Linked DNA regions of Homo sapiens. The protein of the gene in region 4 interacts with the protein of the main gene of each other region in a biochemical or structural test. Each region holds a gene or a part of one and is shown on either strand. Other genes may lie near its edges. The genes, in order: SENP2, ARPP19, IRAK1 and IKBKG.

Region 1 (8,018 bases), on a different chromosome or scaffold from region 4:
GAGTTAAAAAAAACTGTTCTACAACTTAAAAAAGACAAATCTTAATCAAGTGTTATATTTAACTTCATTTTTATCACGCAAACTACATTATGATGGTAATAAAGAACTTTGGAATTGAGGAAAGTTTCAGGACCCAGATGTCAAGAATGCTAAAGGGTCATAGTATATTACTCATCATCTCTCTGAACCCTTATGATCAATTATATTCACACATGCAAAAAAAAAAAATGAATAGAATGAGATCCCAGGATTCCATTCAGCTCATAACTTTATACATTCCAACAAGCCCTGCCGGGCTTCATTTTGACTGAAAATTGGTTTACACTGAGAAGTGTTGTTTTGGATTAAGGATGTGAACACCTAAAGTATAGTAAAGATCAAGGTTTTGATCGCCAAACCATGTTCCACTGACTAGCAGGGATTCACATCAAGGAGAGGACAAGGGAGAGGAAATTAGCTTTCCCTTATTCCATAAATAGGGACCAAGTGCTTATCATGCACCAGACTCTGCAAAAGGCCCCAGAGTAGGACAGACAAATACTACCCTTATATACATTAAGCATCAGTTTAGGCACTTTACACCACGTTCTCAAATGATCCTTATATCAACCCAACGGAAAGATAGGAGAGAAAAATAAGGCAAAACCATGTATCTCTGGAACACACGATGCAATTTAGCCAACAACCAATCTCATCAATAACCTGCATTCTCAGACTAATGTATTAGACATCTTGTTCTCTCAAGCTCCCACAAATGAACACTTCTTCCACTTTTCTTGATATTGAGGCTTAATTTAAAAAATGAAATTAACGGCCGGGCCCGGTGGCTCACGTCTGTAGTCCCAGCATTTTGGGAGGCCGAGGCGGGTGGATCACGAGGTCAGGAGATCCAGACCATCCTGGCTAACACGGTGAAACCCCGTCTCTACTAAAAAATACAAAAAATTAGTCGGGCGAGGGCCGGGCGCGGTGGCTCACGCCTGTAATCCCAGCACTCTGGGAGACCGAGACGGGCGGATCCTGAGGTCAGGAGATCGAGACCACGGTGAAACCCCGTCTCTACTAAAAATACAAAAAATTAGCTGGGCGTGGTGGCGGGCGCCTGTAGTCCCAGCTACTCGGGAGGCTGAGGCAGGAGAAAGGCGTGAACCTGGAAGGCGGAGGTTGCAGTGAGCCGAGATCGCGCCATTGCACTCCAGCCTGGGCGACAGAGCGAGACTCCGCCTCAAAAAAAAAAAAAAAAAAAAAAAAATTAGCCGGTAGTGGCCGGGCGCTGTGGCTCAGGCCTGTAATCCCAGCACTTTGGGAGGCTGAGGCGGGTGGATCACGAGGTCAGGAGTTCAAGACTAGCCTGGCCAAGATGGTGAAACCCCGTCTCTACTAAAAAAAATACAAAAAATATAAGCCGGGTGCAGTGGCAGGCGCCTGTAATCCCAGCTATTCCGGAGGCTGAGGCAGAAGAATCGCCTGAACCCAGTGGGCAGAGGTTGCAGTGAGCTGAGATCGTGCCACCGCACTTCAGCCTGGGCAACAAAATGAGACTCTGTCTCAAAAAAAAAAAAAAAAAAAATAGCCGGGCATGGTGGCGGGCGCCTGTAGTCCCAGCTACTGGGGAGGCTGAGGCAGGAGAATGGCGTGACTCCCGGAGGCAGAGCTTGCAGTGAGCCGAGATTGCGCCACTGCACTCCAGCCTGGGGGACAGAGCGAGACTCCTTCTCAAAAAAAAAAAAAATTAACACTTGATCACTAAAGTTGAAGAGGGGGCATAGAATTTGTATAGTATTTTATTTTCCAGATTTTTAGGTAAGGAGGTCGATACAATAAAATGGGACACTCCAAAGAGTAGATGCTAAATAAGAATAGCTTTTGGGGCTGAGTGCAGTGGCTCATGCCTGCAGTCCCAGCACTTCCAAAGGCTGGGGTGGGCGGATCACTTGAGGTCAGGAGTTCAAGGCCAGCCTAGCCAATATAGTGAAACCCCATCTCTACTAAAAACACAAAAATTAGCCAGGCGTGGTGGTGCACACCTGCAATCCCAGCTACTTGGGAGGCTGAGGCAGGGGAATCGCTTGAACCCAGGAGGCGGAGGTTGCGGTAAGCCGAGATCGCACCACTGCACTCCAGCCTGGGCGACAGAGCAAGACTCCGTCTCAACCAAAAGAAAAAGAAAAAAAGAAAAGAATAGCTTTGCGTTTCCCCCAAATTTTAACCGAATTTAAGAGTACAGACTAGTGATTGTTTTAAAGGAGTGAGGCACCTAAGCCTTTTTACTCATTCACTAATTCTAAAGCACAAAACCCTTCTGGCCCCAAACACACAGACTGTTTGACAGCTGTTTTGGAACAAAACAGGTGCTGTTTCTTGCTGCAAGGACAGTACTTGCAGTCAAAACGGCTTTGGGCAAGCTATGAATCTCACTTCAACTGCACTTAATGTCTGCAGATGACACTTGCGAGGGTGCTTTGTAAACAGTGAGCCACAACAAAGACAGTATTCCTTCAATGTTAGTGTTCAGCCTAAGAGCGGCAAAGCCCCATTTGTTATCAGCAACCAGCTTGGCCTCTGACAAGAATGTCAAAGACCCTGCCATCACCGGCCGCTACGAAGACGACCAGCTCCTCCTTCATCAGGAGCTGCCTCCCTACAGCCTGGCGGGAGCGACTACGTCACTAGGATCCCGGCGACCTGTTTCGGGTGAGCCTGGCTGAATCAAAGCTATCACGGCCGAGGAGCCCGCTGTGGGGGAGGGGGTAAGGCCAGGCTGGCGCTCAGCCCCCTCTCGTCTCACCTGTCTGAGCGCCGCCTCTTCAGGAGGGCCCGGGCAGGGGGCACCGACCGGTCGCAGAAACGGAAAATGGTGCCGAGAATCCTAACCAGCCATCTGTACATACCAGGCCCAAGCAGCAGCGGCGGCCGACACACCCCGAGACGCAAACCCCAGAGCTGTCGCCGCCGCTGCCGCCTTCGCCGTCTTAACCACCACCGCCAGAGTTCGGTCGCTGATTTGTGACGCGATTCAAGAGCCCACAGATACAGCGTCCCCAGGGCTACCAGAGGCCCCCGCCCGCCACCACTCCTGACGTCACCTCCTCCCGCCCGACCGGAAAGCTCCATTCTCAATCTGCGCACGCGCAACCTAGCACCGCTCCCTATTTCCGAGCCCAGCAACAAGAGTAATTGTGGGACGGTCCCGGCCCAATCGCTGACGAGATCGGAAGGGCTGTCGGCAGGGTTTTCTCTTCGGCGGAGCCAATCCGGAGCCGGCCCGTGGGACAAGGCCCACAGGCCACATGTGAGGCTGCTCCACTCCGGAGGAGGCGTTCCGGGGTCCCAGAGGACATTAGGTGCTCAGTGTTTGCTGAATGCACATGTAAAGGTAGATCAGGTTAATTAACACACGTTTACCGTTTTAGGCGCCCTTTATTTTGCACTTACCTTTTGCCTCGTACTTTTCACGCATTGTCACCTTAATATGCCCAGCAATGGCGTGTGACAGAGAGTCTTAAGCCAGTTTTATAAGTCAAGGAAATTGAGGCATAGAGCGATTAAGTTATTTGTCTAAGATCACAAAACTAGCTAGAGACGTGGCTGGAACTTGAACCCGGGGTCTGAGTACCAGCGCCAGTCCCTCGCCCTTGAGGTCAGTCTACTTGGAGACATGTACATAGATAATTACAAATTACAATACACCGTAAGTGGTTGCTGTGATAAAGGTATGTGCAGAGTGCAGTGGGAGCCAGAGAAAGGAAAACCACACACTGAGGGAGAGAAGGAAAGGGCAGATGTCCTCAAGAAAGGCTTCACAGAAATTTAAGGATGAAACCTGCGGCCCACTAATGTCTCCTACCCTGGGCTAGTAAGTAATGAGTCTCGTTACTCTCCCTCTATAATTCCAATGTCACACTTCTAGTTAATTGTCAACTATAGGCCGGGCGCGGTGGCTCCTGCCTTTAATCCCAGCACTTTGGGAGGCTGAGGTGGGCAGATAGCTTGAGCCCAGGAGTTTGAGACCAGTCTGTGCAACATAGTAAAACCCCATCTTTACAAAAAATACAAAAATTAGCCGGGTGTGGTGGCACGCACCTGTAGTCCCAACTACTTGGTAGGCTGAGGTGAGACGATCACTTGAGCCCAGGAGGTTGAGACTGCAGTGAGTCGTGATCACGCCACTGCACTCCAGCCAGGGTGACAGAGTGGGACCCTGACGCACCCCATCAAAAAATTATCAACTGTAAAACAAATCCCACCCTATTTAGTGATAGAAAATCCAGTCCCCTCTTCCAAACAATCCTAAGAATCCTCAAAGGTTTTCATGCCCCACAAATCCATTCCTGATTAACTTGTTTCCTACTTGTGATTCAGTTAAGGCCAGAGTTTTACACTTGCTTGAACTTCAACGCTGGCACTCCCCAGTACAGCCTCTTCCTTTCCTCAATAGACAGCATTCCAGGCCGGGTGTGGTGGCACACGCCTGTAATCCCAGCATTTTGGGATGCCAAGGCAGGCGGATCACTTGAGGACAGGAGTTCAAGACCAGCCTGGCCAACATGGTGAGACAACCCCATCTCTACTAAAAAAAAAAATACAAAAATTAGCCAGGCATGGTAGTACACTCCTGTAATCCCAGCTACTTGGAAGGCTGAGGCAGGAGAATCGCTTGAACCTGGGAGGTGGAGGTTGCAGTAAGCGGAGATTGCACCACTGCACTCCAGCCTAGGCAACAGAGCAAGACTCTGTCTCAAAAAATAAATAAATAAAATAAATACATGTGTGTGTGTATGTGTGTGTGTGTGTGTGTATGTGTGTATATATATATATATATATATATATATATATATATATATATATATGTAGCATTCCAGAATTGTGCTGCAAGCCACCCCCTAGAGCTTCAGAATCACCAGCCACACACCTGAAGCTACCACCACTCTGGCCTCGGGGGCTGGGGTCATATCCTAGAGGATGGAAGCAAATCCTAAGTGTGGACACACCCGCCTCCCTTATTCCCCTAAGCATAGCAAACACCAACCAGGCTGTTGCTGAAAGTTTGGGGCATTACAAAGCTGAGAAGACTTAGAAGTGGCTATTAGATTATGTAGCATCTATAGTCCCTGGCCTATTGTCTCGCAAAGGAATTCCCTTCACCTCAAGGCCATCCCTTTACTCGTAACACCTTTGGCAAGCTGCCAACAGAAGGGACTTTTCCCTCTACCTCTACCCCGACTATTTCAGGCTGGACTCCCCGTAAATGTAATCAAGAGTCAGGACTCCTATTAACAAAAGACAGTCATTGGCATTATTGTGCAAAGCAGTTCAGTTACGTCTGTCCCTTCCACTCACTATTGAGAGTTGGGCTTTGCCTTTGCCAAACCAAGAAGCCCGCTCAAGTACTGGGAGAGGATTCTCCCAAATAAAAGAGCAGTCTTCATTTAAACACGAATCATACATCCTAAGAGAACAATTTTTTTTTCCAAGTTAAAAAACACACACACACATAAATCAGAAAACTACAAGCTCTGCCAGGCACGGTGGTTCATGCCTGTAATCCCAGCACTTTGGGAGGCCGCGGCAGGCGGATCACGAGGTCAAGAGATCGAGACCATCCTGGCCAACATGGTGAAACCCCATCTCTACTAAAAATTAACTGGGCGTGGTGGCGCGTGCCCGTAATCCCAGCTACTTGGGAGGCTGAGGCAGGAGAATCACTTGAACCCGGGAGGCGGAGGTTGCAGTAAGCCGAGATCACGCCACTGCACTCCAGCCTGGCGACAGAGCGAGACTCTGTCTCAAAAACAAAACAAAACAAAACAAAAAACCTACAAGCTGCTTTTGAATAGCAACTTATCCCAGGTCTGGCCACTGAGATTTAAGAAATACTGTGGTAAGCTAGGTGTGGTGACTCACACCTGTAATCCCAGCACTTCGGGAGGTCCAGGCAGAATGATCACTTGAGCCAGGGAGTTTGAGACCAGCCTGGGCAACACAGGGAGACCTGTCTCTAAAAAAAATTTTTTTTTAATTGGCCAAGAGTGGTGGCATGTGCCTGTAGTCCCAGCTACTTGGGAGGCTGAGGTGGGAGTCAAGGCTGCAGTGAGTTGTGATTTCACCACTGCACTCCAGCCTAAGTGACAGAGTGAGATTTATAGTCTCAAAAAAAAAAAAAAAAAGAAAAAGAAAGAAATATATTGGGGTCACACTTGATAGCCCTGCGGTGCAACACAACAACACATTTTTTTTTTTCTTTTCCTGCCTCATAAATAGCACCCTTACAAACTCAATACTGAAACATTGGCCATCTGCCAGGAAGAGTGAGAAGGCTTCAGAATTACAGATCTCAGTCAGAATCTCAGGACCCCATCAGCAAACAATAACTCATGAATCGAATGTGGCAATCCTCAGCCTCCCACCGTGCATGCTCCCTCCATATCCCCCTAGTTACCCTCTAGAAGGAAGAAAAGGAGACGCATCCTTATACTCGCTCCCACCTGGGACTTGTCTGCCAGTTGGTGCCTTCGCTGTCCTGTGGTCCACAGTAGAGACATGGGTGACTGTCCATCCACTGGCCAAGGAGTGGGATTATCCTTAACCCCAACCCCACCACTGCCACAGCCTTTCCGGGACCTAGCAGCGCTTTACTGGAGGGCCATGGGAGAATCCCAAGGCCATATGGAGTAACAAGGACATTGAGATTTCTGCCCTTGGCTTGGATAATTTGCAGCCTTGTACTGCAAGAGGGGCACAACCTCATCGCTTAAGCTTTCGCAGGTGTTCCAATCAGATGCCCCAGTTCTCCAAGAAGATCCTTATCCCCTTTCAGCTCAGAGCAGCTCCTTGAAGCCTTTTCAGGGCCCCACCCCCTTCTTCCTCCAAACCTACCTCCCCTCCAATCCATTCTTTAGTCTTGCAAATTTCCCCTTTTAAAGCATTCAGAGAACTTTAACAAACTTCTTCTCAACTTTGTTTTTCCTGACCCCTGGACAGAAAAGAATTCTAGGCCATTTGTTGGAAAGGGTAAGGGCCCCTAGAGGAGGTTGTGTCGGGTTAGGCCTAATGTGCCTAAAATCCAACATAATTCACCACTCTGTAGATTAATTTCTTTCTAGGTACCAACTCTTCTGGTACTTTTTTTTTTTTTTTTTTTTTTTTTGGAGACGGAGTCTCATTCTGTCACCCAGGCTGGAGTGCAGTGGCACGATCTTGGCTCACTGCAACCTCCGCCTCCCGGGTTCACACGATTCCCCTGCCTCAGCCTCCTGAATAGCTGGGATTACAGGTTTTTCTTAAGTACCAGACGAGGGCTGGGCGCGGTAGCTCACGCCTGTAATCCCAGCACTCTGGGAGGCCGAGGCGGGTGGATCACGAGGTCAGGCGTTCGAGACCAGTCTGGCCAACATAGTGAAACCCTGTCTCTACTAAAAATACACAAAAATTTAGCCAGGCATTGTGGTGGGTGCCTGTAATCCCGCCTACTCAGAAGGCTGAGGCATGAGAATTGCTTGTACCCAGGAGGCCGATGTTGTAGTGAGCCGAGATCGCACCACGATGCTCCAGACTGGGCGACAGAGGGAGACTGTCGCAAAAAAAAAAAAAGAAAAAAGAAAAAGAAAAAGAAAAGATGATGGATGCGGTGGCTCACGCCTGTAATCCCAGCACTTTGGGACGCCGAGGCGGGCTAATCACGAGGTCAGGAGTTTGAGACCAGCCTGGCCAATATGGTGAAACTCCGTCTCTACTAAAAAAATACAAAAATTAGCCAGGCGTGGTGATGCACGCCTATAGTCCCAGATACTCTGGAGGCTGAGACAGGAGAATCGCTTGAATCCAGGAGGCGGAGGTTGCAGTGAGCTGAGATCGTGCCACTGCACTCTAGCCTGGGCATCAGAGCAAGACTCCCTCTCAAAAAAAAAAAAAAAAGAAAAGAAAAGAAAAGAAAAAGAAAAGTGTTTATGTAGATGAAGGGCCTATTCAGTGCCCAGCACAGCTAACTGTTGCTTAACATTTCTCTTGCCTCTCCTTCC
Region 2 (7,721 bases), on a different chromosome or scaffold from region 4:
CATCTCTACTAAAAATAAAAAAATTAGCCAGCTGTGGTGGTGTGTGCCTGTAAATCCCAGCTACCCAACAGGCTGAGGCAGGAGAATCGCTGGAACCCGAGAGGCAGAGGCTGCAGTGAGCTGAGATTGCACCCACTGCACTCTAGCCTGGGCAACAGAGCAAGACTCCAACTCAAAAAAAAAAAAAGACTTGAAAGTTGAAATTATTCCTTGATCTATGGACTACAAGATGGATGTTGCGTTAGAAAGCATGAAAACAACATTAATCTCCTTGTACACCTCCATCAGGGCTCTTAGGAGACCAAGTGCATTGTCAATGAGCTACAATATTTTGAAAGGATTTTTTTTTTCTGAGCAGTAGGTCTCAATAGTGAGCTTAAAATATTAACTAAACCATGTTGTAAACAGATGTGCTGTCATCCAGGCTTTGTAGTTCCATTTGCAGAGTACAGGTAGAGCAGATTTAGAACCCTAGGATTTTCAGAATAGTAAATGAGCATTGGCTTCAGCTTAAAGACACCAGCCACAATAGCCCCTAAGAAGAGAGTCAGCCTGTCTTTTGAAGCTTCGAAGCCGGGCATTGACTTCCTCTAGTATGAAACTCCTGGATGACATTTTCCAACAGAAGGTCGTTTTGTCCACATTGAAAATCTGTTGCTCATTGTAGCCCCCTTAGTCAATTAGCTTAGCTAGATCTTCTGGATAACTTGCTGCAGCTTCTCCATCAGCACTTTCTACTTTGCCTTATACTTTTATGTTATGAAGATGGCTTCTTTCTTTAAACTTCATGAACTCACCTCTGCTAGCTTCAAACTTTTCTTCTTTAGCTTCCTCACCTCTCTGAGACTTCACAGAATTGAAGACAGCTAAGCCCTTGTTCTGGATTAGGCTTTGGCTTAAAGGAGTGTTGTGGCTGGTTTGCTCTCCTATACAGATCACTAAAACTTGGACCATATCAGCGATAAGACTGTCTCGTTTTCATATCATTCATGTGTTCACAGGAGTAGCACTTTTAATTTCCTTCAATAACTTTCCTTTGCATTCATAACTTGGCTAACTCTTCGTCACAAAAGGCCTAGTTTTTGGCTGTCTCAGCTTTTGACATGCCTTCCTCACGAAGCTTAATCATTTCCAGCTTTTTAAAAATGTTTAATCTATTTATTTGTTTATTTAGAGACCGGGTTATGAGACTGGCTAATTTTTGTATTTTTGGTAGAGACGAAGTTTACCATATTGCCAAGGCTGGTTTCAAACTCCTGGGCTCAAGCAATCCACCAGCCCCAGCCTCTCAAAATGCTGGGATTACAGGCATGAGCCACCGCACCTGGCCATTTCTAGCTTTTGATTTAAAGGAAGAGATATGCAACTCTTCCTTTCACTTGAACACTTAGAGGCCATTGTAGGGTTATAATTTGGCCTAATTTCAATATCGTTGTGTCTCAGGGTATAGGGAAGCCCAAGGAGAGAGAGACAGGGGAATGCTGGTTGGTACAGCAGTCAGAGCATACACATTTATTGGTTAAGTTCACTGTCTTATGTGGGAGTGGTTTGTGGTACTCCCCCAAAATTACAATAGTAATGTCAAAGATAACTGATTACAGATCACTATAATAGATATAATAATAATGAAAACGTTTGAAATATTGCAAGAATTACCCAAATGTTACACACGATCACAAAGTAAGCACATGGTGTTGGAGAAATGGCGCCTATAGAGGCTGGATGCAGGATTGCCACAAACCTTCAATTTGTGAAAAATGCAGTATCTAGAAGTACAATAAAATGAAGCCCCAAAAAACAAGGTATCCCTAGATGGCAGTTTAGACTATGAATGTCCACCGGGCGCAGTGGCTCAAGTCTGTAATCCTAGCACTTTGGGAGGCCGAGGCAGGCCGAGCACTTGAGGCCAGGAGTTTGAGACCAGCCTGGCCAACATAGCAACACCCCGTCTTTACAAATTATTATTATTATTATTTGAAACAGTTTTGCTCTTGTTGCCCAGGCTGGAGTGCAGTGATATGATCTCAGCTCACTACAACCTCCATCTCCTAGGTTTGAGCAATTCTCCTGCCTCAGCCTCCCAAGTAGCTGGGATTACAGGTGCCCACCACCATGCCCAGCTGATTTTTGTATTTTTAGTAGAGATGGTTTTACCACGTTGGCCAGGCTGGTCTCGAACTCCTGACCTCAAGTGATCCACCCGCCTCGGCCTCCCAAAGTGCTGGGATTACAGGTGTGAGCCACCGTGCCAGGCCTACAATTATTAAAAATACAAAAATTAGCCGGGCATGGTGGCATGTGCCTGTGGTCCCAGCTACTTGGGAAGCTGAGGCAGGAGAATCACTTGAACCTAGAAGGCAGATTGCAGTGAGCTGAGATGGTGCCACTGCACCCCAGCCTGGGTGGCAGAGTGACACTTTGTTTCAAAAAAGAAAAAAAACTATGAAGGTGGAAGTTATTTCCTGGAGGCTGTGTAAACATAGAAGAGAAGGAGATCCAAGGACAGAACTGTTAGAATCCTCCCATTAAGAGGCAGGTTAAGATTCAACAGGGAGGTTAAGTAGGAGGAAATCCATGAGACAATAGTATCCTGGAGATCAAGAGAAGGAAGTTTTGACAAACAGGGTGCTGGGGACCAGTGTGCAGTTTTACACATTAAGGTTCATAATGATGCAGAGTGGTGTTAGTTGGGAAAGAATGGCTTTCCAGACAGGTCCTCATTGTGGAGCATTGCCCATGGTGAATTCTCCATTTGACCAAAGTCTGCCCCCAGAAATTCAAACTTCCCCTTCTGCGAGTGTCACTATCAGAAACAGATTCTTTTTATCCAAGGTCACATAGCCAATTTTAAAAAAAAGGCCAGATGTGGTGGCTCGCTCCTATAATCCCAGCACTTTGGGAGGCCGAGGCGGGTGGATCACTTGAGGCCGGGAGTTCGAGACCAGCCTGGACAACACGGCAAAACCCTGTCTCTACTAAAAATACAAAAAATTATCAGGGTGTGGTGGTGGGCAACTGTAATCCCAGCTACTTGGGAGGCAGAGGCAGGAGAATTGCTTGAACCCAGGAAGTGGAGGTTGCAGTGAGCCGAGATTGTGCCATTGCACTCCAGCCTGGGTGACAGAGTTGAGACTCTGTCTCAAAAAGAAAAAGAAAAAAAAGTTTTTTTTCTTTTTGTAGAGACAGAGATTTGCCATGTTGGCCAGGCTGGTCTTGAACTCCTGAGCTCGAGCGATTTGCCCGCCTTGGCCTCCCAAAGTGCTGGGATTACGAGTGAGCCACTGTGCCCAGCCACAGCCAATTTTCTTGAGGCTGAGTTTCATCATTAAGTGTATGTCTATCAGATTTTAACTCAAGTTCACAAATACATTGATATAGGACATATACTAGAACGTCAGTCAATTTATTAATAAAAATACAACTGTTAAATGCTTCAGTGGCCTAACTACTGCACTCTTCTTTCTCTCTGCAGTTCTGCTTAAGGGAAAGGCAAATTTTCAGTATGTTACTTTGTGAGTATAGAAGGAGAACAAATATGTCGTGGATCTTACAGTTTCTCAGCTAGCCCAGCGTGAGACATTCTTAAGGGATATCTTTGTCAAACAGTTGGCCTGTTGAACCCTTTTATTTTCAATACTTCCTTGGCTGACAAATGCCTTCCTTCGTTTCTCCAAAAGGAGTGCAATATTAACTCTTTTTGTTTTTCTAGTTGCAATTCCAGTGCAATTCTTCCTGTCTGAGATTCTACATCCTGGTTGAGTTTCGATGGTTTCCAAATTCCTTATCCAGGCATTTAGGGTCTTTCAATTGTTCCCCTGCCCCCAGAAATGCATTCATTTTCTGTGGCTTTTTACTAGTTTAACTTTTAGAGGGCAATCTTATTTCCAAGTTTCTGAGGGACACTTTGTTGGAACCAACAAACATTGCGAGTAACTATTCAGATATCAAGTAGAATGAGGATTCAGTAAGAAGCCGCAGGACTTGGCAAATAAAAAGGTCATTGGGGGAGCTCAATGCTAGCAGTTTCGGTAAGCTTGTGGGAGTGGACCCCCTGGGAGTGGACAAATGAATCTGAATTCCTTCGTTAGATATCTAGGAAGTGCTGGACCCTCAGAGTAAAATATAAGTAATTACAGACGAGATCCCTGCCCTGGTGCGGCTTATCTGAGAAGGAAAGGTGACCTAAAGTCACGACAATTGTGTAATGATACAGTTCATGTTGTTGAGGAACTGTACAGGGCTGTGACAGCCTTTAAGAGGTGGCTCTGGCCTAGTGTAGAGGTTTAGGAAGGAAAGGTTCTGAGGCAGAGACGTAGGACTGGAGATGTGAAGGCGTGGCAGAGTGGAGCAAGACTTTTGGCGTGCCCAAAAGACAGCCTGTGTGGCTACAGAGCGGAGAGCGAGGAGAACAGAACTAGGCGAGGATGGGTAAGTGGAAAGAGTAAAATAAAGCTCCTAGAACGAGGGGACCAGAGTGGACAGGAAAGGGCGGGGAGGGGCGGTTCCACTTAGAAACTACAATTCCCAGGAAGCACTCGGCAGCCACAAACGGATGTGAGGTGAGGCAGGAGCGGCGACCTTTGAAGGAAAAAAGGAAGTGTTTGGACGACAGCGAGCGGGAGAAGCGGGGTCAAGTAGGTAGGGGTGCGGTGCGGGAGGGGCAGGCGGGCTCCGGCGTGCGAGGGCCTTGGCCAGCGGAGCGTTTCGCGGCTCCGTGTCGTCATAAGGCGGCGGCCATTTTCGCGGGCGGAGGCGGCCCGGCGGGCCCTGGGAGAGCTGGGACGGGCGGCGGCCGGGTGGCCTCGGCCACCCGCTAATTGCATCTTTTCCCGGCGTCTCGTCTGCAGAGGGAGCACTATGTCTGCGGAAGTCCCCGAGGCAGCCTCCGCGGAGGAGCAGAAGGTGAGCGCGCGGGGCGTGAGCCCTGGGCCCTGCCCAAGGCCGGGTCTGGCGGGCGGCCTGCTCCCGCCAGGCGGAGGGCCGCGCCCGAGATGCGGGGCCGAGGCGCATGAGGCCGAGGCTCCTGCGCCCCACCTTTGGCTTCCCGCCGTCGCTGGCTGGTGCGCCGACGAATTGGGAGTTCCAACGTGCCCCGCGTTTACTCCGAATCGTGCCTTTTGTAACACCTCCGTGGGTCGCGGTGTTCCTCAGTCACTTATATTTACGCGAGAGCCCAGGACGCAGGCTTTGGGCGTAGAGCCTAAGTTTTTCTGTAAGCCTCAATTTGGTTAGGAAGTTTTATTTTTTCCTTTGAAGAACTCTCCAACTACTTGTATTGTGAGCGTGCGGTTCACTCCAAAAGCAGTGCCTCGTGTGCGGGCCGCGATGTGGGCCAGGATTGGCATTTCAGGGCCAACCCTTGTAACCATGGTCAGTGAGTAAAGTCCGGCCTTCAGTGTCTTCACCTGTAAAGGCCGAATACTGGTGCTTGCCTCCCACGGCGGGGTGAGGCCTAGAGGAGGTGAGTCAGGTGTAGTGTGCAGCGCAGTCTGTGCTCAAAAAGGTTTCAGTCGATGGGACTCAAATATGGTACTTGACTAAAAATCGAAAGGGTGGAATTTTAAAATTTTACTCACGAAATTAATCAGGGTTTTATTGGAAACAGGAATATTTTGTAAACGCCCTTGTGTCTTCCTGATGTAGGGGAATAGGCCGGGAGTGTCACTGTGGTTCAAATTATGAATATCAAGCCTTTGTATTTATCTAGGCTGGTGTTTGTCTCTCCCACTGTAATTATTTCCACCGCCCTGCCCTCCTAGGCAGGTGTGACTGGCCGAGAAGTGAGAAAGGGCCGAGGTATCTTGTCTCCTAAATTGTTTATCAACAATTTTTCTTACAAATCAGGTTGTGTTGCCGTTAAATACGATTTTGGTCTACTGCTTGACCTTCGTGCGGGTTTCTGCTTAATGTTGCACTTATGTCCTAATTAAGTTGGGAATTGGATTAGTGTTCTAAGCCCATTCCATATGTTCTTAAAACCGTGTTAACTTTTCTTAAGTTGGGTGCTTCTGTTAGGATGTTAAAGTAATTGAAAAACAAGAAAACATATAGCATAGGTAAAAGTCCAAGTTACCACATTATTTGAGAATATCCCGTGAAAATAGATATATTTACGCATTACCAAAAAAATGGATTTTGGGGGCAAAAATACAAATATTAAAGTTTGCAATCTTAACAGTATTATTAAGTATCACCTGCTTATTGTAAAATGCGTATTGTGTTCATTATTGCTTGAAATTTAGGAGCCCCCAAAAATAACAAGTCCCTGTCTGTGGTGGTTTGCCTTAAACACTTACATCAAACTTAGCATTAACTTCTGGTGCACAGTAGTGTGCTATGTAATTTTCTTTGATAAGTTCTGTTAGTATGTTGCCAAAGTATGCAGTATTGACTTCTAGAGTGTAAATACTTTTACTTGGAAAAGCCTAATGTATCTTTTAACAATATTAAGGATAGCTTGAACGTTTTCTCTTATTGATTGTCTACATTAAACATTTAAGGTGCTTTGGTTTTAGCTGCTGTCATTAAAATCAACCAAAGTGTGTTAGGAATATAATGTTCCTTCTTAAATTGAGGATTGGCTGTAAATGCTAAGTGCCTGTGGCGTGGATGGTGTCCCTAACCATGAAGAAAATGTGCACAGTCACTTCTGTGTTCCTGTGGGCCAAATCACCTGTTTCTTCTATTTGGAAGATCAGTTCGATGACCTAAAAAATTAAGTTATTGTCTGTGTACCCAATTGACCTTCCACTTAAAGCCAAAGTATTCAGCTAAAAATACCTTTATAGTTTACTGGTAGGTTGCCTGTTGCCGCTAAAGAATTAAGGTAGATAGCTGGGCCTTGCATGGAGTAAAAGCTAAGTCACTTTCTCTATCTTGAGTGGTGTGTGCACCCTTGGTAAGAGAAGAAAACCAGATAGATTCCTGTCTTGTATTAGGAAACAATATGTACAAACATAAAAAATAAGTATAAACTCTTATCTCTTAACTTGTATACCACTCTAAGACTAAAACAGCCAGGCGTGGTGGCTCTTGCCTATAATTCTGGCACTTTGGGAGGCTGAGGCAGGAGGATTGCTTGAGGCCAGGAGTTTGAGACCAGCCTGGTCAACATAGTAAGATTCTGTCTCTACAAAATAAAATAAAATAAAATAAAAATTAGCCAGGTGTGGTGGCATGTCTGTAGGCCTGTAGTCCCAGCTACTTGGGAGGCTGAGGTGGGAGGATCACTTGAGACCAGGAGTTCGAGGCTACAGTGAGCTACTTTTAAAATATTTTTTAAAAATTTAAAAGGCCTGTGCTGTGGCTCACAGCTGTAATCCCAGCACTTTGGGAGGTCATGGCGAGTGGATCACTTGAAGCCAGGAGTTGAAGACCAGCCTGGCCAACACGGTGAAACCCTGTCTTTACTAAAAGTACAAAAACTAGCCAGGCATGGTGGCCCACACCTATAATCCCAGCTACTCGGGAGACTGAGGCATAAGAATTGCTTGAACCCAGGAGGCAGAGGTTGCAGTGAGCTGAGATCATACCACTGTACTCCTGCCTGGGCAACAGAACAAGATTCTGTGTCAGAAAATAAATAAAATAAAATTTGGCCGGGCACGGTGGCTCACACCTGTAATCCCAGCGCTTTGGGAGGCCGAGGCTGGCGGATCATGAGGTCAGGAGTTCGATACCAGCCTGGCCAATATGGGGAAACCCCCTCTCTACTAAAAAAT
Region 3 (6,915 bases), 540 kb from region 4:
GGTCTCCCTCTGTTGCCCGGGCTGGAGTGCAGTGGTGGAATCATGGCTCACTGCAGCCTCAACGTCCTGGGCTCAAACTATCCTCCTGGGTCAGCCTCCTGAGTAGCTCAAACTACAGGCATGCACCACCATGCCTGGCTAATTTTTGTACTTTTTGTAGAGACGGGGTTTCGCCATGTTGCCCAGGCTGGTCTCAAACTCCTGGCCTCAAGTGATCTGCCCGCCTTAGCTTCCCAAAGCGCTGGAATCACAGGCGTGAGCCACCGTGCCCAGCATCAATTGCATTTCTGTATAATATCATGATGAACTAGAAAATCAAAGATACCATTTAGAATAGCATAAAAAACATGGACTACATCAGGAAAAACCTGACACGGGAAGTGCTGGGTGTGGCCAGCCCAGAGTAGTAACAAGACCCTGGACGCTCAAGAACCCTGAAGTGTAAGGCATCAGGAAAGCTCAAGGCTTTCGGTGCAACAAAGTCCACAAGTAGAGCCCGAGATTGCAACATACGTTTTTATTACTCAAGGACAACCTGGACGTCACCAATGCCCAGCTTCACGGGGGCATGTAGTGTGACTCACGGCTGAACACAAAATCACTGTGAAGCCTGTGCTACAGCCCTGGGCTACTTTTGGACACGCAAGAGGACACTCGGTTACATGAAACCTGACTTGCTTCTGAAGACATGTGATACATGTCTTTTCCCTGAAAATGTTTCCCTTCCCTGTCTGCCATGCTCCCAACTTTTCTGCCTTCCAGGGGCTTCTCACTGTCTGGGTAACTAGGTCTTGGGCCTAGCTAGACCTTGGGTAGTGGCCCCTCTGCCACAATCAGTGCCTGGGCCTGAGGCTGAGCTTGTGGCCTCCGAAGCCTGACCTGGCTCGGAGCTCGTCTGTGGCGCCCAGGGATGGCCTGGCTTGCAGGCCACCACATTAGGCCAGCTCGCAGGTCCCCAGTAAAGCCTGAAGACACTGGCCCGAGGTTGGAGGTGGGTGCTGCTCGACTTTCTGGAGGATCTCAGAATTCTCGCTTCTTGCTAGGACTGAACCATGAGACTTACAGCCATACTTCACTTTTCCCAGGGTTTTTCTTTTTGAAACAGGGTCTTGCTCTGTCACCCAGGCTGGAGTGCAGTCATACAATCATGACTCACTGCAGCCTCGACCTCCCAAGCATAAATGATCCTCCTACTTCAGCCTCCCCAGCAGCTGGGACCACAGGCGTGCGCTACCACGCCAGGCTAATAGTTTAAAAAATTTTTTGGCAGAGACAGGGTCTCATCATGTTGCCCTGGCTGGTCTTGACCTACTGGGCTCCAGCGATCCTCCTGCCTTGGCCTCCCAAAGTGCTGGGATTACAGGCGTGAGCCACCGCACCCGGCCACACTTTTCCAAATTGTAAGCAGGTAGGAGGGCCCTAGGCCTCGTCGGCCCCATTGTGCAGGGTGGCCACTGTCCAAAGAGATGGGCAAAGAGCTGCTGCCAGAGGCCTGGGCTGCAGACGCCCTGCATGGCTCTCAGGGGAGCCAGCTCCCTACTCCACACCCCTGCACAGCAGCCCCTCTCCTCCCCTCACGGGTCTGTGCAGCCAGCAGCCTCCCAACATGCGCCAGCCTCCTCACTGGATGATGCCAGCCTTCCTTGCCCCCAGATGCTGGCATGGAGGCAGGGTTCCACTCTGCCTGCCTATGCCCACAGAGCCTAGAACAGCAGGGCCACCTCCTTCTCTCCCCCGCGGGCATGGGCCCCCACCCCCACTGCCGGCAGAGTGCTGAGGACTCGTGCACCATGAGAACTTCTGACCATGAGAACTTTGACTTCCGGATTTGGGGGATCTGCCCAGGTGAACACATCAGCTCTGAAATTCATCACTTTCTTCGGGCCCCTGCCTGTCCTGTTCCAGGCCCAAGCCTACAGAAGGAAGAGGAAAGTCCGCTTAGCAAATGGGGGAGGCTCCCCTACTGCCAGAAGCCCTGGCTCAAGGCCTGGGCCATGCTCCCTTATCTCCTGGGGCGTTCGTGGGAATTGAGGGTTTTTGTTTGTTTGTTCATTTGTTTTTGAGACAGGGTCTAACTGTCTCCCAGGCTGGAGTGCAGTGGCTTGATCACAGCTCACTGTAGCCTCCACCTCCTGGGCTCAAGTGATCCTCCCATCTTGGCCTCCAAAAGTGCTGGTATTATAGGCATGAGCCACCTCGCCCAGCTGAGGGTTCCTAAGCAGTGGTTCTTCAAATAGTACCTGGGATGGAAAATTCCTGCTGGGGCTTCCTATTTCCTGAAAGCACAGAGTGGGGCAGGCACCCTCGGGCTAAAGGAGGTGCTACTGTCAGGAGGCGAGGGAAGGAGTGGGCCAGGGTCTTGCTAAGGGAGGCATGTGGGGCCGGCTGGGCTTCTAGAGGTCGCCAGAGCCAGTGGCCTGCCCGGCTGCCCCACGCCCTCAGCGCAGTCGGGACAGACACTCTGCTCTTTGGGGCTGACACGGATGCGCCTGAGCACCCCAGAGGCCAGCCTGGGCGGCAGCACCTGGGAGGGAGCTGGACGACAGCAGCTGCAGGCTGTCCAGGGCCCCATCCTCGTACAGGGCCAGCTTCTGGACCATCTTCTGTCGGGCAGGGTTGATGATAATCTGCGGTGGCTCTGACGACGATGATGCAGAGCTGCCAAGGGCCAGTCCTGGGGTGGAGATGGCACTCCCTTAGCCTCATGCTGTGGCTCCCCAGCCCGCAGCCTAGCACCCTGCCTCCCTGGCCTCAGGCCTGAATTCCTCAGAGAAGTCCAAGGGCAGGGCCCAGCTCTCAGGCTACCAGACAGAGCCCTCCTTGTTCCCAGCCTTCAGGAATGGGGTGGGGGGAGGGCTGGAGAGCAAGCTCCACCTGGGAAGGATGTGGCCTGGGGAGGGGAAACCAGGGTTGCTAAGGTCACAGTGAGCTGAACATTTGGCCCTGGTTCTCTTCTAGAAGGCTGGGGTGGGGACTTACAGGGGCTTTGGCCCAAAGAGGCCTTGGTCCCTCTCCTGGGAACCCGTCTCCCCAGCTACCTTCCACGGCTGTGGGCCGGGATCCTGGGCCACTCCCCCAGCTCGATTCTCCTGCCGTGTCCCCCTGAGGACAGCCGGCCTCCCTGAGGGGTGCTGGGTCCAGAGGGCAGCTTGGAGTCAAGTGCCAGGAGCGCAGGGCAGCAGAGAGGCCGCCTAGGCTCTCGTCACTCTCCACGGGCTGGTTGGGGCCTCTCTGCAGCTGCTCTGCTGCCTGGGCACTGGCTCCTGATGGCGCTGCCAGGGGCTGCCATGGAGCAGCCCCACTGTGGGCTCTGCCAGTGCTGGACACGTAGGAGTTCTCCTGCGGGGAAGGGGGGATGCAGCTGGCGGCCTCCGAATGCCCGGGCACCCCCGCCACCACTGCCTGCAGCTTCTCTAGCCTCTCGTACACCTGCAAGTGGAAAAGAGGGACTCTCAGGGTGAGATGGCAGCCCTGGCCGGTCACCCCGTGGGCAAACCACAGGGCTGCTCCAGGCCGTCCGTGACCTGCCCCAGGGCTCTAAAATGACATACCCTGCAGCTGGGAACGCTCTGCCCCTCGCCCCTCTGTTCCCATCACAGGGAGTGCTGAGAAGCGCGGCTGCCAAAAGCAAGGACTGAGAATGGCCTCGTTCTTTTCTACAAAATGAATCTCACTGCCCCGCTGCCCTCAAACGGGGCCTCTCCATTTTCAACTGTCACCAGAGGAGAAGAGGTGGGGTACTAGGGAGGGGACAGAAAAAGGCAGATGCAGTAGTGCAGTGCGCCCAGCAGGGGGCGCGGCAGCAGCTCTTTCCTTCTCTCTATGTGAAGGGGGTCGGAGCTGGGCTCCGCAAAGCAGGACTGCCCGGGGCCCCTCAGTTCAGAGGGGCGCTGCCCCAAACAGAACCAAAGGGCAAGCAAGAAATGTGTGGAGACTCCAGAGAGACCTAGCAGGTGCTGAGATGGGGTCACTACAGAGCAAGGCCTGGAATGCGGGCTTTCTATCTGGCCACCCCGTCCCAGTGCGCAGCTGGCTACCTGGGTCATAGGAGGCCTCCTTTTGGCCCGGCGGTGCAGGCAGCAGCAGGCCAGCTGGCCCAGGCCCAGGCCCAGCTCAGGTGGGCAGGGCCCGGGCCTGGGGTCCAGGTGCTTCTTGTAGATCTGCATGGCGATGGGAGCAGCCCAGGCATCTGCAGCCAGACCTGCTTGCAGTGTGCTCTGGGTGCTTCTCAAAGCCACTCCAGCCTCCTCAGCCTCCTCTTCCACCAGGTCTTTCTGTGGGATAAATACTGTCAGTATGGCTACCAGGTGGCCACACCTGCAGCTGCAGTCCTCAGGTCCTTGTCACTCAATCGTATGGGTTTTGATAAAAAAAAAAAAAAAAAAAAAAGAGATGGGGTCTCGCTTTGTTGGCCTGGCTGGTCTCCAAGTAGGCTCAAGTGATCCTCCCGCCTCAGCCTCCCAAAGTGCTGGTGTTACAGGTGTGAGACACTGTGCCACAGCTCTTGGTCTTTCTACAACTTACTTTTTTTCTGAGACAGGGACTCATTCTGTCACCCAGGCTGGAGTGCAGTGGTGCAATCATGGCTCAGTGCAGCCTCAACCTCCCAGGCTCGTGATCCTCCCACCTCGGCCTCCCGAGCAGCTGGGATTACAGGTGTGTACCACCATGCCTATCTTGCTATGTTGCCCAGGCTGGTCTCCAACTCCCAGGCTCAAGCGATCCTCCTGCCTCAGATTCCCGAGTAGCTTCTAGAGATTTATTAAACACCTACTGTGGGCCAGTGGTGCTCTGGGCCCTAGGGATACAGGAACAAACAGAACCCTGGGACCCGGTTTGACAGAGCTGACTTCCTGGTGGGGGAGAGCCCCATGGAGCTGGGGTCTGAAGGCAGGAAGTAGCCTGAGAGGGCAGAGCCGAGAAGGAAAGCGCCCCACAGAGAGGTGCCCCACAGACAAAGAGGTACCCCAGAGAGAGAGGCGCCCCGCAGAGAGGCGCCCCCAGGGTGGAAACAGGACCGGAGGCCATCTCCAGTTCTGAAATCAGACAGACCAGGAGGAACCACCTGGGTGGGCGGTGGCTTTTCTCGCAGAGCGAACGGCACATACTAAGGCTGTGAAGCAGGCAGCAGGGAGCGCCCCGAGTCCCAGGGACCTGGGGCGTTGGGGGGTCAACCACATAAGGGACTGGGCCTTCACCCCAAGAGCAGAGAAAAGGCAAAGGGGCCTTTGAAAAGAGCACTTTGGCTGCAGGGTGGGGAGCAAGTGGGGAAGTCCAAGGACCCCCAAGGAGCCTGGTGCGCTTCTTCAGCAGGATGCATGGATGGACGGACGGGGAAGGGAAAGGAAGGAGGGCTCAAGCCCGGCTCCTGGGTTCTCAGCGGGGCTGAATCCTGACGGAGACCCCACAGCACACAGGAACCGCCCCAAACAAGAGGAGAAGCAGTGAAGCAATTACTGGCTGAGCACATTCTGTGAAGTCTGTTTTGCATATGGGAAAACAGGCCCACAGGGGAGCAGGAATTTGCTGGAAGGCCACTGTCAGGCTGGGGCTAAAACCCAGGTCTCTAGTCTCCTGGCCCCACCACAGTCCACGGTGAGGCAGACTGAGTGGAGTAAGACCGTGAGGCAGCTCAGGCTGCCCTGCACGGTGCGGAGAGCTCAGCTGCAGCCTGCTGGGGCCCAGGAGGTTCCTCGGGGCCTGCTTCTTCTCTACCACCGCCTTTCTCCGGCCAGAGTCCTCTGAGTTCCACTGCAGCTTGGGTCTCAGTGCCCTGGGACCGCCCTTCCCCCTGCCCCCAGCCCAGGTGGGGTCTGTACAAGGCCCATAGTGTCTGCAGGACAGACAGGTTTGTCCTCGGCAAGGTAAACGAAGTTGTTTGGAGCCCTGCCTACTTTCAAAAATGAGGCCACTGTGGCAGCAGAGGCATCCATGGGCACTGCGCCCCAGTTATCCCCGCCACTGGGGCTGTGCCTGCTGGCTGCCAGCAGCTGTGTGTCCCTCCTGGCCCTGCCTCAAGGGGCTCACCAGATACTTGGTCCTGGCACCGTGCGTCTTCACAGCCCTCTGACCAGCCAAGGTCTCTAGCACTACCTGGAGAGAGGGAAGAGGGAGAGCATGGCAGTGGCCTTGGCAGGGAAGAGGCCTCTGGTGTGGACATGGATTGGGCCTGACAAGGGTGTGGACAAAGGCAGAGCCAGATGTTATGGGACTGAAGCTCGGGCAACTCGGAGAGCCCACTTGAAGACAAATTACAAACACACAGTTAGGTGCAGGGTGAGGAGGAGGGCCTCGGAGGGAGGGGGACCCTGGAGCTGCAGCCTCCTGGGGTCTTGGCAGATGGCCCCTGGCCCGCAGTGCACTCTGCAGCCCCCACCTCTGCCTGCCTGTGGCTTCTCCTCCTCTGAGCCAGCAGAGGGGTCAGTGGCTCACCACCCCAAAGCTGAAGGTGTCCGTGTCCACAGCCAGCCTTCCCGTCTTGATGTACTCCTCGGGCAGGTAGGCCAGGGTGCCCCGCACTGTCTGTGTCCGGGCCACCATGCTGCTCTGGCTGGGGCTGGACCCGGCAAAGCGGCTGAACCGGGCCAGGCCAAAGTCTCCCAGCTTGGGTGTCAGCCTCTCATCCAGAAGGACGTTGGAACTTGGGGAGAGAAGACAGTGGCGTCAGCCCGGTCCTAGCTCCTACACCTGCCCGGCTTAGATAAGGCTGGACTCGAGGCTGCCAGCCCGGTGCCTTGCCCACAGAAAGCGCTGGCACTGCCCTGAGCGCTCCAGCTGCCTGGGGGCCTCTGCTCATCAGTAGGGCCCATCCTTGGCCCGTTCCCACACCTGTGCGATGCCGGGGTGTTGAGGTCCCAGGCCATGCCTGATCCCCACATTGATAGGACGCGGGGCCCCCCTTGCTGCAGGCCCTGC
Region 4 (7,019 bases):
ATGGGAACCCAGTGAGAGTGCCTGGGCAGGAGTAGCCAGCAAGATAGGGAGGAAACCAGGAGAAGGGGCTGTTCTGAAAGCCAAGGGTGGAGTGCAGTGGCACAATCTCAGCTCACTGCAACGTCCGCCTCCTGGGTTCAAGCGATTCTCTTGCTTCGGCCTCCCGAGTAGCTGGGACTACAGGCGCGTGTCACCACACTCTGCTAATTTTTTGTATTTTTTTTTTTTGAGATGGAGTCTCGCTCTGTTGCCCAGGCTGGAGTGCAGTGGCGCGATCCCGGGTTCACGCCATTCTCCTGCCTCCCGGGTTCACGCCATTCTCCTGCCTCAGCCTCCTGGGTAGCTGGGGCTACAGGCGCCCGCTACCATGCCTGGCTAATTTTTTGTATTTTTAGTAGAGACAGGGTTTCACTGTGTTAGCCAGGATGGTCTCAATCTCCTGACCTCATGATCCACCCGTGTCGGCCTCCCAAAGTGCTGGGATTACAGGCGTGAGCCACCGTGACCGGCAATTTTTTTTTTTTTTTTTAGTAGAGGCAGGGTTTCACCGTGTTAGCCAGGCTGGTCTCGATCTCCTGACCTCATGATTGGCCCGCCTCGGCCTCCCAAAGTGCTGGGATTACAGGTGTGAGCCACTGCGCCCGGCCAGACATTTTAATCTCACAGTTCTGGAGACTAGAAGTCCAAAACCAAAGGGTTAGCAAGCACACACCCTCAAAGGCTCTAAGAGGGCAATCCTCCCTTGCCTCTCCCAAGCTTCTGCCCCATTTATTCCTGGGCTTGTGGCTGCCTCACTCCAGTCTCCGAGGCAGTCCCGACATGGCCTCCTCCCCTTGCGTCTCCCTCTGGCTTCTCTCTTCTGTCTCTCATAAAGACACGTTGTTGGATTTAGGGCCCACCCACGTCACCCAGAATGATCTCATCTTGAGATCCTACATCTGCAAAGACCCTTTTCCCGAATCACATATGTTTCAGGGGTTAGAACATGGGCATATCTTTTCGGGGGGCTACCATTCAGCCCACTACACTGGATGAGGGGCCGGTACCCTCCACTTCTCCTGCTTGGAGGTGTGTAGGGGATCAGGATTCCCAGCATACTGACATCTCCCTCCACAAACAGTCTTGTCCCGACTCTCCCATCTCTGGTGAAATTCTTCTATTTCCAGCCTGGAGCTAGGCCTTTTCAAGTCCCACATGGGTGGTCCAGCACCTCCCTTTGGAATGGGAGTATCTGCTACCCCTTAGACTGAAAACCCACTTTAGCATCCTGATACACTAGGTGAATTATCAGCATTCTGTTTAAAATGTAGCCCCAGAACTCATAGGCTTTTTCTGCTGGGTAAGGATGTGGGTCTCCTGTGACTCCCCTGCTGCCTTTCTCTTTCAGCCCTTGCCCTGTTGGATGAATAGGCACCTCTGGAAGAGCCAACTGTGTGAGATGGTGCAGCCCAGTGGTGGCCCGGCAGCAGATCAGGACGTACTGGGCGAAGAGTCTCCTCTGGGGAAGCCAGCCATGCTGCACCTGCCTTCAGAACAGGGCGCTCCTGAGACCCTCCAGCGCTGCCTGGAGGAGAATCAAGAGCTCCGAGGTGAGGAAAGAGTCAGGGGATCCAGCCCTGCTGAGGGGAAGGCGTCTTCTCCCCACCTGCACCTCTGCGTTTCCTGGGCCTGGGGTGGGGATGTGCTGCCCTCCCTCTTGGTTTCAGGAAGTAGACTCTGAGATGCAGATTAGCGGGGAGGAAGTTTAGCATGCTCTCAGGACCAGTACTGGGAAGGGAAAGGAGGGACAGGGGAAGAAGCCAGGGAGGGCAGAGGGAGAAGCACGCTGCCGGGTAGGCTCCAGGACAGCCTTGCTGGATCTTACAGGGAGCTCTGGAGCTGGAATGAACCTTCCAGGTTGGACCAACATGTCCAGGCCTCTGTGTCCCTGCACTGAGCACTCATGAAGTGCTGTCCATCCTGGGACAGGGCAGAGTCGGCGCTGGGAAGAGGCGTGGTCTGCCCAGAGAGGGGGTGGGGCCTGTCCTGGAAATGGGCGGGGCATGCCCTGGTAGAGGGGCGTGGTCTGTCTTGGGAAGGAAGGTGCGTGGCCCCCACAGGCAACATTCCTCTGGGGCAATCCCGGCGCACACCTCAGCGGAGGTGAAGGCTGACTTCCCACACCCAGTGGCTGGGACTGGGGAGTTCTTTCCTAGACTGCCATCCGGGCGCCCCTCACCCTCTTGCTGCTCAGCTCCAGGTCGTCATGGGTTCAGGGCTCAGCTGCACGCTCCTGCCCGCGCCCTGGGCGTGATGGCACCCCCAGCCCCTGCCATTCTTCCCCCTCACCCCCTCTCCCTGCCACTGCTCTGCATTGCCCTGGGTTAGCCTGGCGGGGCCAGGTGGCACCCGCCATATACTCTTGCCTTTCTGCTGCGGGGGCCTTCTAAGCCTCGGGTCCCAGAGCTGCAGGGAGGGGCGGCATAGACTCCCCACATGGCTCACTGGGTGTGGTGGGGCCTGTAGCCCTTTTTGTTTCATCCTTTGGTTCCTGCTGGGGACTCAGGCCTAAGTGTCCACCCCATCGTGGAGGACAACACCCCTTCCTTGCAGGAGTCATCCCTGAGCTGGCAGCTTCAATTGGCTCTCCGTGTCCTGGCTGGCTGGCAGCTCCTGGGCGAGGTGGCATGTGCCGTGACTACTAGAGATCGCTGTCATGGGCCCACTCCCCCGCCTTCTTTGCTGGACTGTGGTCCGAGATGTTATGTGGGGCTCTGTGCTGACAAGTCACATAGTCTGTAGGCTTCAGAGAGTGGCTCTGGCTGACACCCCGTGGGCAGAGACAAGACCCATGCCTGCGATGTGTCTCCTCTTACTGTCAAGGCAAATCACCTTTCCTTCCATGGAGGAAGGGGTCAGTGCAGTCAGCTTGCTGTCAGGGGGCTGCTTGGTCTCCTCGACGGTGAGGCTGAATTGGAGAGGCCCTGCTGGAGCATGGAGACCCAACATGACCTGCCTGTTCCAGGACAGGGTCCCCCACCTCAGTGCCATCGGCACCTGGGGCTGGAGAATTCTCTTGTACGTTGTAGGGTGTGGAGCAGAGTCCCTGGCCTGTACCTGCTAGATGCCAGTAGCACCTGTCCTGTTGTGACAACTAACAATATCCCCAGATATTTATTGCCAAATGACCCCTGGGGGATACAGTTGTCCCTGGTGAGACCCACTGTATTGGGATCTTCAAAGCACTGGTGCACAGAGAGGTGACAGTTAGACTGGGGGCTTCTGCTCATCCCCAGGAGAGTGCTCTATTGAGGGGGACTTGAGGGTGAGTGTTGCAGGCCAGCTGTGCAGGGACCCTGGCACAGCGTATGGCGCCCTTGCTTCCCTTCCAGGCTGTGTGTTCAGTGCAGCAGCTTCCCTCGGGCTCCAGGGACACAAGGAGGCCTCAAGGCTGTATTGACTCCCCCTGCTCCGCCTGACCTGAGCTTTGTGGGTGGCAGGTGAAACTTGGTAGCTCCATGTGTCAGGCCCTGGGCCAAGCCCCTAAGGGCCCAGAAGATGTCTGTCCCCCAAGATGTACATGCTTATGTCCATGGAGGAGGCTGTACTTAGAATGTTGAGGGAGAGATTCACGAAGAAGTTGCATGTCTCTAGTGTGTGACTCCACTAGTGTGAGACATGTCCAGAAGTGGCCAATCTGCAGAGGCAGATGCAGATGAGGAGGGTGCTGGGGGAGCGACTGCTTATGGGGTCCCGGAACTGTTCTGGAATTAGATAGTGCGGATGGTTGCACAACCTGATGGATACACCGAAAACTGCTGAATTAGTTAAAATAGTGAATTTGATGTCATGTGAATTTTACCTCAGTTCAGAACATTTTTTAAAAGACAAGTTGCCAGCCAGGTGCAGTGGCTCATGCCTGTAATCCGAGCACTTTGGGAGGCCCAGGCGGGGGGATCACCTGAGGTCAGGAGTTTGAGACCAGCTTGGCCAACATGGTGAAACCCCATCTCTACTACAAAAATTAGCTACAGACGTGGTGGCGGGCACCTATAATCCCAGCTACTTGGGAGGCTGAGGCAGGGAGAATTGCTTGAACCCAGGAGGTGGAGGTTGCAGTGAGCTGAGATCGCGCCACTGCACTCCAGCCTGGGCGACAGAGCGAGAGTCTGTCTCAAAAAAAAAGACAAGTTGCAGATGAGCTGAGCTTTGGGCAGAGCAAGCGGGATTCTGATGGGGGGTGGATGTTGCGCTCGTCAGCAGGCAATAGTTAGTTGGTTGAGGGTTTTGATCACGGGGTAGCTACTGCCTGCCCCATTTTATCCAGCTCTGTAGTTGCTATAGAGTTGCTAGAACCTTGGCACATCACTTATCAGTTTTGTCACCTCAGATGGCTTCTTCACTACTTGGGGTGTCTCCTGGGTGTGGGGCTCTCCTTCCTGTGGCCTCTGCTGACTGCCTGGCACTGGCACACATGCTCTGGTGAGGGGAGGACCAGCGGTTTTTCCCGTTTGTTTTCTGCTTCCTCGTTTAACCCTCCTCGTCTTGTAAGATGAATGTTCTTGTCTCTGTTCACTATGCAGATGAGGACTTTGAGGCTCAGAGACGCCACTAACTTGCCTGGTCCAAGCCTTTTGGGCCTCTCAGGCTGCAGCCAGCAATGCTGCAGTGAAGTTTGCCTGGGAGGCTGACCCTAGGAGTCTGCAGGCGTGTTAGGACCCCCGATCTAGAAGACAGCAGAGATGTAGGCCAGGGAGGACCAATACCGAGCATCTGAGGGCAGGCACACCTCAGACTGACCAGAATACAAATGAATTCGAGTCACTTACAAACAAAGTGGCATAAGGCCAGGCACAGTGGCCCATGCCTATAATCCCAGCACTTTCGGAGGCCGAGGTGGGAGGATTGCTTGAGGCCAACGATGTGAGACCAGCCTGGGCAACATAGCAAGACCTTGTCTCTACAAAAATAAAAATTCAAAAAAGTGGCATTTAACACATACTTTTTTTCTTTTTTTTGAGACAGAGTTTTGCTCTGTCCCCCAGGCTGGAGTGCAATGGTGTGATCTCGGCTCACTGCAACCTCCACCTCCCAGGTTCAAGTGCTTCTCCTGCCTTAGCCTCCCAAGTAGCTGGGATTACAGGCGTGTGCCACCACACCGGGCTAATTTTTGTATTTTTATTAGAGACGGGGTTTCACCATGTTGGCCAAGCTGGTCTGGAGCTCCTGACCTCAGGTGATCCACCCACCTTGGCCTCCCAAAGTGCTGGGATTACAGGCATGAGCCACAGTGCCTGGCCAACACGTACTTTTAAGTGAAGCTGATGTGTTTGGTGTTATTTTCTTGCAGAAAGTGAGGGGCATTAGTGTAAAGGATTTTGGAAGTGTTTAAAGAAACAAAAGGGAGTGTTGAGACGCCATCCACCCCTGAGAGAAGCTGCGTGGTATTATGGCGGGTGGGGGCACCAGGATGGGTGGCCCCACTTCTGGCCTCTGACTTCCTGAGCCTCAGGCCCATGTGGGCCCAGGCAGGGCCCGGCAGGCCGGGCTGCCCAGCTCCCCTCCACTGTCCCCTCTGCCACCAGATGCCATCCGGCAGAGCAACCAGATTCTGCGGGAGCGCTGCGAGGAGCTTCTGCATTTCCAAGCCAGCCAGAGGGAGGAGAAGGAGTTCCTCATGTGCAAGTTCCAGGAGGCCAGGAAACTGGTGGAGAGACTCGGCCTGGAGAAGCTCGATCTGAAGAGGCAGAAGGAGCAGGCTCTGCGGGAGGTGGAGCACCTGAAGAGATGCCAGCAGGTAGTCGGGGCAGGGCCAGGTTCTGAAAACCCGCGGTGACGCCAGTGTTCCACAAGGGAACCCGTGGTCGGGGTCCCCCAAAGCACCCTGGGGCTCAGTGCTGTGCCGGGAGGGCTCGGAACTCAGAAAAGCCGTCACACTCCCAGTTCCGGTTTATTACAAGGAAAGGACACAGGTTACGGTGAGCGAAGGCTCAGGGCGCACAGGGCGGGCTCCAGGAGAGACCAGGCGTGAGCTTCAGCGGCTCCTCGCCCAGGGGAGTTGTGCAGACGGCACCTGTTTCTTTCGGCAACAGTGTGGGACAGCGAGCACGGAGTCACAACCGGGAAGCTCACCCCAGCCGTGGCGGCCGGGGTTTTCACGGGGGGTGGGCCGCGTGGGCACCGAGCGCCTGCGTGGCCAACCCTGGTCACTCGGCTGTAGCCACCAGAGGTCCAGCTGTGTGGCCCAAGGCTCCCCCCATAAATCGTGTCATTAGCACAGACCGCCTGGTTTCAGGGTCTTTGTGTGTGGGCTTGGCTGATCGCAGGATCCTGGCGATGGTAGTCAGGAAGGGGCCGTGCTCCCTTTGAGGGGCAAGGTGGAGAGAAGTGCTGGAGAGGAGACTTGCTGGCGGGTACCTGGCACTTGCCACAGCCAGGCTCCACTCCCCTGGGGAAAGGCGTGGATGGTGGGCTGTGCACGCCGCTCCACTCAGGGCTTAGAGCGCCTGGCTTAAGGCGTTGATTTCCTGTGTGGGAAGTGGATGAGTTTTCTACAGCTGCCGTGACCAAGCACCACAGACTGCGGGGCCGAAGCCACAGAAACGCGTGGCCTCCCGCTTCTGGAGGCCTGGAGGCTGAGCTAGCGGTGGTGTCGGCAGGGTGGGCTCCCCGCCAGGGCCGCGAGGGAGCTGCCTTCCAGGCCTCTCCACGGCGCCGGGGGCCGCCGGCTGCACCTCTCCAGCCTCCATCTCCGTCATCCTGTGGCCTTGTCCCCGCGGGCCTCTGTGCCTGTCCTCCTCTTTTGACAAGAACACCGGAGATACACAAAGGTACACAAAAGCGGGCCTTTGTTCAAGCTGGCAAAAGAGATCTTCTTCAGAAACCCCTGCTTGCGGGGGAGAGAGCTGAGCTCCGTTCCCGCCCCAGCAGAGGCGGCCTGGCCTTGCGAAGGGAGAAGGAGGGAGTCGGGAGGGGGCGAGTGCAGGCTCAGGTGAAAGATGACGGGGCAGCCAGCGTCCTTGCCGCGAGGCCAGCCGTGT

What was found.
Region 1: the proteins of IKBKG (region 4) and SENP2 form a complex in vitro, tested with the Homo sapiens proteins (2 studies listed by BioGRID and IntAct, with this or other methods).
Region 2: the proteins of IKBKG (region 4) and ARPP19 form a complex in vitro, tested with the Homo sapiens proteins (one study listed by BioGRID and IntAct).
Region 3: the proteins of IKBKG (region 4) and IRAK1 form a complex in vitro, tested with the Homo sapiens proteins (3 studies listed by BioGRID).

Annotation. Positions count from the first base shown.
Region 1 is NC_000003.12:185,581,285-185,589,302, reverse strand, and holds the start of SENP2 (sentrin-specific protease 2), read right to left. Parts: upstream 3,009-8,018; 5' UTR 2,890-3,008; coding exon 2,789-2,889; intron 1-2,788. UniProt on the Homo sapiens protein: Protease that catalyzes two essential functions in the SUMO pathway.
Region 2 is NC_000015.10:52,566,029-52,573,749, reverse strand, and holds the start of ARPP19 (cAMP-regulated phosphoprotein 19), read left to right. Parts: upstream 1-4,719; 5' UTR 4,720-4,857; coding exon 4,858-4,902; intron 4,903-4,917; exon of another isoform or gene 4,918-5,461; intron 5,462-7,721. UniProt on the Homo sapiens protein: Protein phosphatase inhibitor that specifically inhibits protein phosphatase 2A (PP2A) during mitosis. Inhibition of PP2A is enhanced when ARPP19 is phosphorylated.
Region 3 is NC_000023.11:154,010,005-154,016,919, forward strand, and holds the end of IRAK1 (interleukin-1 receptor-associated kinase 1), read right to left. Parts: intron 6,641-6,915; coding exon 6,433-6,640; intron 6,094-6,432; coding exon 6,028-6,093; intron 4,275-6,027; coding exon 4,038-4,274; intron 3,430-4,037; coding exon 3,039-3,429; intron 2,675-3,038; coding exon 2,525-2,674; intron 1,914-2,524; coding exon 1,855-1,913; 3' UTR 503-1,854; downstream 1-502.
Region 4 is NC_000023.11:154,550,601-154,557,619, forward strand, and holds part of IKBKG (NF-kappa-B essential modulator), read left to right. Parts: intron 1-1,387; coding exon of another isoform or gene 1,388-1,402; coding exon 1,403-1,589; intron 1,590-5,564; coding exon 5,565-5,776; intron 5,777-7,019. UniProt on the Homo sapiens protein: Regulatory subunit of the IKK core complex which phosphorylates inhibitors of NF-kappa-B thus leading to the dissociation of the inhibitor/NF-kappa-B complex and ultimately the degradation of the inhibitor.